Regions from separate parts of the Homo sapiens genome. Here region 1 is linked to region 2. Evidence: fine-mapped expression QTL. A gene starts in region 2. The other region holds a variant in brackets. All regions are shown on one strand. Distances are from middle to middle. Region 1 has its middle 25 kb from the start of LIRIL2R. Region 2 holds the start of LIRIL2R (lincRNA regulator of IL2RA).

Evidence for each region. PIP is the estimated chance that this variant, and not a neighbour inherited with it, causes the effect.
Region 1: its variant is the best candidate, but not a certain one, in a credible set for the expression of LIRIL2R in nucleus accumbens (GTEx, PIP 0.86).

Annotation. Positions count from the first base shown.
Region 1 is chr6:152,876-157,263 of GRCh38, reverse strand. No RefSeq gene overlaps it. Among named protein-coding and RNA genes, the nearest start is that of LIRIL2R, 25 kb to the left of the region's middle. RefSeq lists enhancers at 902-991, 1,032-1,121. The variant G/A (reference allele first, on the strand shown) is at 2,463.
Region 2 is chr6:178,118-182,505 of GRCh38, reverse strand. It overlaps LIRIL2R (lincRNA regulator of IL2RA), which reads right to left and starts at 2,111. Exons shown (of 2, transcript XR_926349.3): 1 at 1-2,111. It overlaps LINC03066 (long intergenic non-protein coding RNA 3066), which reads left to right. Exons shown (of 8, transcript NR_126020.1): 7 at 32-140; 8 at 811-1,040.

The DNA of each region.
Region 1 (4,388 bases), 25 kb after region 2:
ATTTAATTCTAACAGGGGACTTTTTTTTTTTTCTTTTTCAAATGGGCTGATGGGTAAAAATAATGCAAGACTGGAGATGTTGGAAAAAAGCACACTGCATTTGCCTTTCAGCATCTGTGATGACTGAGTCCTTCCTCAGCGCTGCCACAGGGAGCACATTCACATGTGTGTCACACACATACCAGGGTTAGGTCAGAAGACCAAGTGTTACCTGGAGGAAGCCACAAAGGCTATGAGACCAAGCCTTCACCTGGAAGACACTTGATAGTTCAGAAGCCGAGATCCTGCGAGGTGTCTCAGAGAGCTCAGCTGTGACCCTGCACTGTATGGAAGGGCAGGCAGTGGGGCCCAGGCAGGTGAAGAGGATTGTCCACTGTTGAGCATCATCAGCCTAAAACCCACATGCAATGCTATTGCTGCAAAACCGCTGACTGTTGAAGCCACAAACCACAGAAACAGACTACCTTTATGGTCCTCACTGTGCAACTGGTGACTTTTCAGAAGATGAAGATTAAACATATTAATCATAAATTCAAAGCATCAGAAGAAATACTAGGAGGTTTTCTAACCTCTGCTACCATGACTTTTCTTTTTGGCAAGATTTGTGAATTATTGTAAATAAGCTCACAGAGGCCAAAGTGCTCCCCTGAGTCATCCAGAAAGAGGCAGGCTGCTAATCCCCACATCTGAGACATCTGTGTTTTCTTAGGATAATAAAAAATTAAAGATAAGGGAAAGAGAGAAGGACAGAAAGAGACAGAGAGACAGAGAGACAGAGAATTGGAGCTAAGAGGAAACATTTTCAGGTTTTGCCCCCCAGAATTCCCAGTGAACAGTCCCATTGCCAGCGGGTGAAATCCCATGCCCTGGCTCCAGGATCCTGCTCTTTCGTTTGGTGACTCCTGTGCAGATTTGGCACTGAAACAATATGGAACTTGTTACACTTCTCTGGACAAGTCATTTTGCTTTCGGCTCACAGGCTCCACTTCCCTGGACACCCCTTCACCCTAAGCTTCAAGTAATTCAGCTTCACCCTTCAGAGAAGAGCTCAGGTGTCACTTCCTCTAAGGACCTCCCCAGCTGCCTCTCCAGCAGAAGGGCCCCCACCTTGCCCTTTGCACATCTGTCCCTCAAGGTGCTGCTGTCCTCTGTGGAGGGTGGGATCCCGGGAACTAGAGCCCCTCTCCTGCTGGAGACACTCGGCACTCAGAAAGTGTGTGCTGAGCGGATACAAGTGTGGCAAGCTTGCACAGTCTTACAATGTGTAATCTCATGTCTGAAATAGATCCCCATTTTCATTCTTGGTAAAATGAGTAAGTGGGGCTGGGTGACCCATACTCTCTTTTCAACTCAGAAGTCCACATTGAGCCTGACATCAAATAGCTTCCCAGCCAGTGCCAGGCCAGGACCTAGTTTGTTCAATGTGCCTGTGTCCCCTACAGAGTTGGAAAAGCATGGAGAAATGGGACCAGCTCTGCTGCCTGCTGCCCAGTGCCAACCAGCAACTCCAGGCTCACAAACCCAAGGCAAAGGCACCTGCAGGAGATCTTGGTTATTCATTAGCTGTGATTGGGCTGGGAGGGGAGTGTGTTCACTTCTAATTTTCCAGGGACTAGCATGAGACAGTAAAGTTTGAAATGTGGAGTTTTTTTGTCTTGGCCAAAAAAAAAAAAAAAAAAAAAAAAGACCTTTTTACCTTCTCATCCTTGGAGCCACTGGCATTAGCTATGGGCCTGATAGTTTAAGAAAACTTGAAAGTGAACTATGTGAACCAGTATTCTCCAAAGTAATATTTTGATAAATAGTGTAATTCTTTATTACAGCAAAGCCATTGCTTAAGTGGGCAAAACTCTAGAGGATAGGAAAACACACTCTTGAAAAAAGGTGGTGATGCCCTGAAATTCAGCAAACTGCAGGGACACGTGTTGTTCTACCCCAGGTCAGAATGTGTCAGTCATCACTCGATGCCACTCACAGACCACCAACTTCAGAATATCTAGGTGTAAATTTCTGTACAAAAGTCTTAACATAACAATGTAAATAATTTCACATTATGATTAATAAATTAGTATTTGTATTACACTATTACATAATATAAAAGCTATTAAAACATATTTGTCCTCAAAGAATGGCCTTGGTTTCTTTGGGCAGTGTCTCCTCATGGAAAGGTAGTGCATTCCTGCTAAGTCATGGACAAAACTGGCCTCCAGGAGCTGCAAGCTGCAGCAGCAGCTTCTCATCTACGTCCGTCACTACATGATACTGTTGTTGACTTTGAAAGCTTCTTTCAGTCTAGTTTTATCAACAGAGCTAGTATTTCATGAGGATCTACTACATACCAGGTTCCAGAAAGCTAAATGCCTTTTGCTTGTTATTACTCACTAAATACAAACCACAACTCTCTTCTCATTACTCACACAACAAAATTTAGCTGAGGGAGATTGAGTGACTTTCCCAGGGTC[G/A]CACAGTTACTAAGAGCAGAGCCGTGTTTAGATTCATGTGGGAATACTGAACGCTGAAATGAACGAGCAGAAATATCCTACGTTCCAAAAGCCTACTCAAGCCATTTGTTCTTAAGGAAAATCTTTATGCTAATTTTAAGCTCCAAATACTTATGAATGGCAGAGATCTACAGATTTCATTCTGATGTAAGAGATGATGCTCACCAGCTGGTTACTGCTACCACCCCACAACCCCGAGCATACTGGACAAATCTCTAAGCCTCGTTGTTAGTGCAGACAATGCTGGTGGAGTCTGAAGTTGTCATGCAGTGACTCACTCAAGCTTAGGCAGATTTGATGATATATGACACAGAGATGCAAAGAAATGCTGTAGCTGACACACAGAGGCTGGCTCTGGGAGATGCAGAAGGAGCATGTCACCCAAAATAAAGCCAGACAGACATCCTTAAGGAAGGAGCAAAGGGGCTGCATCTTAAAGAATGAAGAAGAGATTTGTCATGAGAGATGGGACAGGAAGTTCTTGAGAGGCAGAGGGAGAGCATGAGAATGTCGGGAAGGGAGGAGAGATTCTTGCACATCTGGGAAGCTGACAATCCATCGGCATTGTCAGAAGGAAAATAAGGAGGAGGAGTGGAAATAATAAAAGCAGGGCTGTGTGTTGATTGTGGTAAAGAGTTGTGATTCTATCCAGAAGGCAATAGGTAGCATTCTAAAGAGAGATCTTCTAAAACAAGAGTCAGCAAATATTTTCTGCAAAGGGCTAAATGTTAAATATTTCAAGTTTTCCAAGCCATGTTGTCCCTCTCTCAATGACTCAGCTCTTCCATTATACCATGAAAGTAGCCAGAGACATTGTATAACACATGTATGTGGCTGTGTCCCATTACAACTTTACTTACAAACGCAGACTGTGTCAGACCTGGCCCATGCATGGTAGTTTGCCACACCCTGTTTTAGAAAGCTCAGGTTTATGATGTGATGGAGAATGCCTACAAGAGCTCTTGTTTTAAATGGTAGAGTGAACATACACTGGAATTCTATCCTGCTTGACCCAAGCTCTTGATAGCGAAAGGTAGAAAAGATAGATGGTAAATAGATAGATAGATGATAGATAAAGAAAATACATAGCTGTTCCAGAAAACAGAAATGGATAACTTCATGAACCAAAAGCAGAGTAATATACTTTAGAAAGGGAGCAGGCTGGAAAACTCACAGTTGCAAAGCAAATAGAATTTCCAACTGCCTCTTGTAGCCCCTTCCTGGAAGTAGTCACAACCCAGGGTGTTTCGACTTCTTCCCCTGTTTTTTGTTTGTTTGCTGTTTGCTTTTTTGTGGGTTTTTGTTGTTGTTGTTTGCTTTTTTAAAAAAAATTCCCTTTCCCTGCTTTTTTGTCACAGCAGTCTTTGTCACTTCAAACACCACAAGTTTTCTTTTTCAAAAAATTATATCAACCTTTCAATTAAAATGCAACATGTCTGAAACTTGATATCTAGAGAGGTGATATGGACAAAGGAGCCCTTGTTACTGCACGTTTCTGTTCTCCAGACTTCACCTTGCACACAAGAACAGACAATGCACAAAACCACTTCCTTATGGACTGAAATTCTGAAATCCTTTTATGACTGGCGTTTCCTAACCCTTCAACTTCCCCTCTCCCATGCTGTGAATGATTGTATTGGACATTTTTGTTTTAATCTCAGTGACAGGGGAACACAGGTAGCTCTAATATAGCTGTGACCCAGATGCTTCTGTTTCTACCATGTATTTATTTTGTAGCAAACATTTACATCCATCGTTTTTCACTGTCTTTTGAAAATAATTAGGGAATATCTCATCTGAGGTAGGATGTTTCTAGTGGTTGTGTTCTGAAGGAGGAAAAACTAATCTGTTCTCTTTCCACTGCATTCCAGGAACAGTGAGAGGACC
Region 2 (4,388 bases):
CACTTCAAGCTATAATCTGTGTTTGCCACAGAGGTTTGTTCTAATTCCCCAACCTTGCCACGACTGACCTGGGTCATCACCATGTGCTTATTGAAGAGCCTTGGAATACTGTATAGACCCGTACAGAGTTGTTCAAATAGGTAAGCACTTTCCTTCTGGTGAATTTTTTTTTTTTTTTTTTTTTGAGATGGAGTTTCACTCTTGTTGCCCAGGCTGGAGTGCAATGGTGAGATCTTGGCTCACTGCAACCTCCGCCTCCCAGGTTCAAGCGATTCTCTTGCCTCAGCCTCCGGAGTAGCTGGGATTACAGGCACCTGCCTCCACGCCCGGCTAATTTTGTATTTTTAGTAGAGATGGGGTTTTCTCCATGTTGGTCAGGCTGGTCTTGAACTCCCAACCTCAGGTGATCTGCCTGCCTCGGCCTCACAAAGTGCTGGGATTACAGGTGTGAGCCAACGCGCCAGGCCGAAAATATTTTATAATAAAGTGACTGTTGTAGATCAACTTTATAATACAATGCGGATTCTCAATTCTTATAACAAAGACTAATGTACATAAATTTCAGTATGTTTTAAAATTAGCCAGTACTTAGTAGAAAGCCCATATAGTTTACTGTAGCACTTCTGCACTTATAGTTTAGGTCTATCTAGATGTATGACTTCTCAGATGCTGCCGAATATTGACCTTTTGCATGGTATTCAGTCTTTGAATTTTTATTTCATAATATGCTGGAACCACGATATTCTATCTGATCAGCAACTGGTCTGGTATCTGGGGCTCATAATTTTCTTTTTCCGCTTCATATTTCAGACAATTGAGGACGACTATAATAGTTTCTCATTAGAAATACATGCTAATAAACATCATGTCTTTGGTATTAAGTGGCAATTAGATGAAACAACCTGAAATTCTGTCTGATACCAAGATTGAACTTTGCTGAGATTACTGTTTCACTCACCGAAAATATCAGAATACTCAAGGGAGTTATTTTTTTTCTTAATGTAACTTTCATAAAGGAAATGAAAGAAATGTGGAGACTGAAAACAGTTGTCTGGTGTCTCAATACTGCATGCAGGTTCAACTACATTCTAAGCAAGTTGACTGTTATAATACATTTCACATTTTCTGTGATTTTGTTTGTGCTGAGACCTTATGCAATTACAAAGCAGATTTTTTACACTAACCTACACTGAGAAAAGAAAACCACCGTTCCCCTTTTAAACAGGAGAGTGCCTCAAGTACACTCGGGATCCCTCTCACCAAGCACAGCAAGGCTTGTGACTTCAAGCACACCAAGCTTGTGACTTTTTCTCCTACAAGGTGCACCTCGTTTTTTCTTACTGACAAATTGGCTTTAAAGTAAAGTTAGTTCCCTATCACACTGGCCCCCAAGACTCCAACTCCTGCTTCTCTTGGGATCTCTGCCCAGAGTCCAATCTCCCCTAAGGCGTGGTGCAGTGCTGTGCCCACACCTAGGCTCTGGGGGTGGGCACCCTTTGACTTTCCTCATATCATTCCACCCTCGACACATCCAAATGTGAACACATCTTCTCCACAAAGTGCCCCTTCACCACGCCAGTTCCCAGACACTTTATTTCTTCCCTTGCCTAGAGTGCTGCCCCCAAAACCAGCCCCCCATCATTGGCCATGTCCTTGCAGAGGCTGAACCATCCCACAATCTGTCAAGGATATCAGGGAAGAGCATGAGCTGGATAGACTTCAGGCTCTGCCAGCAGCTACATTCTAGGGGTGCCCGGACGTCCTGGTCTCTTGAGATGAGATGGTCTTGTGTCTGGAATTGGTCTCACTGACTAAAAGAATAAAGCCGCAGACCTTCACAGTGAGTGTGACAGTTTTTAAAGATGGTGTGTCTGGAGCTAGTTCCTTCAGATGTTTGGACGTGTTCAGTTTCTTTCTGCTGGTGGGTTTGTGGTCTCGCTTGCTTCAGGAGTGGCTGCAGACCTTTGTAGTGAGTGTCACGAGCTCTTAAGGTGGTGCGCCTGGAGTTTCTCATTCCTCCCAGTGGGTTTGCCATCTCACTGCCTTTAAGGAGGGAAGCTGCAAAGCTTCGCGCAGTACGACAGTTTCCAAACATGATGCAAGCACAGCTTACCACGGTTGCCTCCGCAGCCCGCTTTTATTCCCTTATCTGACCCCACCCACATCCTGCTGATTGGCCCATTTTACAGAGAGCTGATTGGTCCGTTTTGACAGGGTGCTGATTGGTGCATTTAGGAATCTTGAGCTAGACACAGAGTGCTGATTGGTGCATTTACAATCCTTTAGCTAGACACAAAAGTTCTCCAAGTCCCCACTAGATTAGACACAGAGCACTGATTGGTGCGTTTACAAACCTTTAGCTAGACACAGAGTGCTGATTGGTGTTATAATCCTGTAGCTAGACATAAAAGTTCTCCAAGTCCCCACCAGACTCAGGAGCCCAGCTGGCTTTGCCTAGTGGATCCTGCGCTGGGGCCGTGGGCAGAGTTGCCCGCCAGTCCCACACTGCACACCCACACCACGCACCAGCACTCCTCAGCCCTTAAGCATCGATAGGACTGTGTGCTGTGGAGCAGGGGGCGGCACCCCTTGGGCAGGCTCAGGCTGCTCAGAAACCCACGGCGGCTGGGGGGAGGCTCAGGCATGGTGGGCTGCAGGTCCCGAGCCCTGCCCCGTGGGGAGGCAGCTAAGGCCCAGTGAGAAATTGAGCGCAGCACCGGTGGGCCGGCACTGCTCGGGGAGCCAGAGCACCCTCCACAGCTGCTGGCCCGGGTGCTAAGCCCCTCACTGTCTGGGGCTGGTGGGGCCGGCCAGCCAGCTCTGAGTGTGGGGCCCACCAAGCCCACGCCCACCCGCCAAGCCCACGCCCACCCGGAACTCTAGCTAGATCACAAGTGCCATGCGCAGCCCCAGTTCCTGCCCCTGCCTCTCCCTCCACACCTCCCCGCAAGCTGAGGGAGCCGGCTCCTGCCTCGGCCAGCCCAGAGAAGGGCTCCCACGGTGCAGCGCTGGGCTGACGGGCTGCTCAAGCACAGCCAGAATGGGCGCCGAGGCCGAGGAGGCACCGAGAGCGAGTGAGGGCTGCCAGCACTCTGTCACCTCTCACTACCGCACTCTGTCCTACCCTCCCATGCCCCTCCAGCACCCTGATCCTACCTGCACCCCGCTCCTACTGAGAGGTGAAGCCCGGCTGGGCTTCTGGGTTGGGTGGGGACTTGGAGAACTTTTCCCTCTAGCCAAATGTTTGTAAATGCACCAATCAGCAGACTGTAAAAACGCACCAATCAGCACTCTGTGTCTAGCTAAAGGTTTGTAAGTGCACCAATCAGCACTCTGTAAAAATGCACCAATCAGTGCTCTGTGTCTAGCTAAAGGTTTGTAAATGCACCAATCAGCACTCTGTAAAAACGCACCAATCAGCTCTCTGTAAAATGGACCAATCAGCAGGACATGGGCAGGGCCAAATAAGGGAAAAGCTGGCCATGCGAGCCAGCAGTGGCAACCTGCTTGGGTACCCCTCGATGCTGCAGAGGCTTTGTTCTTTCACTCTTCACAGTGAATCTTGCTGCTGCTCACTTTTTGGGTCCGCACCACCTTGAAGAACTGTAACACTCACTGCGAAGGTCTGCGGCTTCTATTCTGAAGTCAGCCAGACCATGAACCCACCAGGAGGAACAAACAACTCTGGACGCCCCACCTTGATAGAGCTGTTAACACTCACTGCGAAGGTCTGCAGCTTTACTCCTGTGAAGTCAGCAAGATCACGAACCCACCAGAAGGAAAAGACTCTGGACACATCTGAACATCTGACGGAACAAACTCCAGACACACCATCTTTAAGAACAGTAACACTAACCGCGAGGGTCTGCGGCTTCATTCTTGAAGTCTGCGAGACCAAGAACCCACCAAAAAGAACCAATTCCGGACACACTACCTGCTTTCGACCTCACAGCACCTAGCTCCTACCTGGACCTTTCTCCTACCTGTGCTTGTCCCAGCAGCACCCGGCTGCTATCCGCCCTGCAGCACCCTATCCTACCCATGCTTGCCCCACTAGAACCCCAATCTTACCCACACTCTGCTCCTTTCAGTGCCCTGCCCTGCCAGCACCCCATCCTACACATGCCTGGCCCAGCAGTCACCCTACTCCACCTGAGCCCCGCCCCTACTCGCACCCCGCTCCTATCCATGGCTCACCACTGCAGCACCAGCCACTACCCAAACCTCGCTCCTACCCACGCCCAGCCCTGCCAGCACCCCATGCTACCCACGGCCCACTCCAACAGCACCTCAATATTACGCATACCCTGATCCTACCCACACCTCACTTCTACCCGTGCCCTGCCCCACCAGCACCCCACTCCTAGTGTGTCCGGAATTGGTTCCTT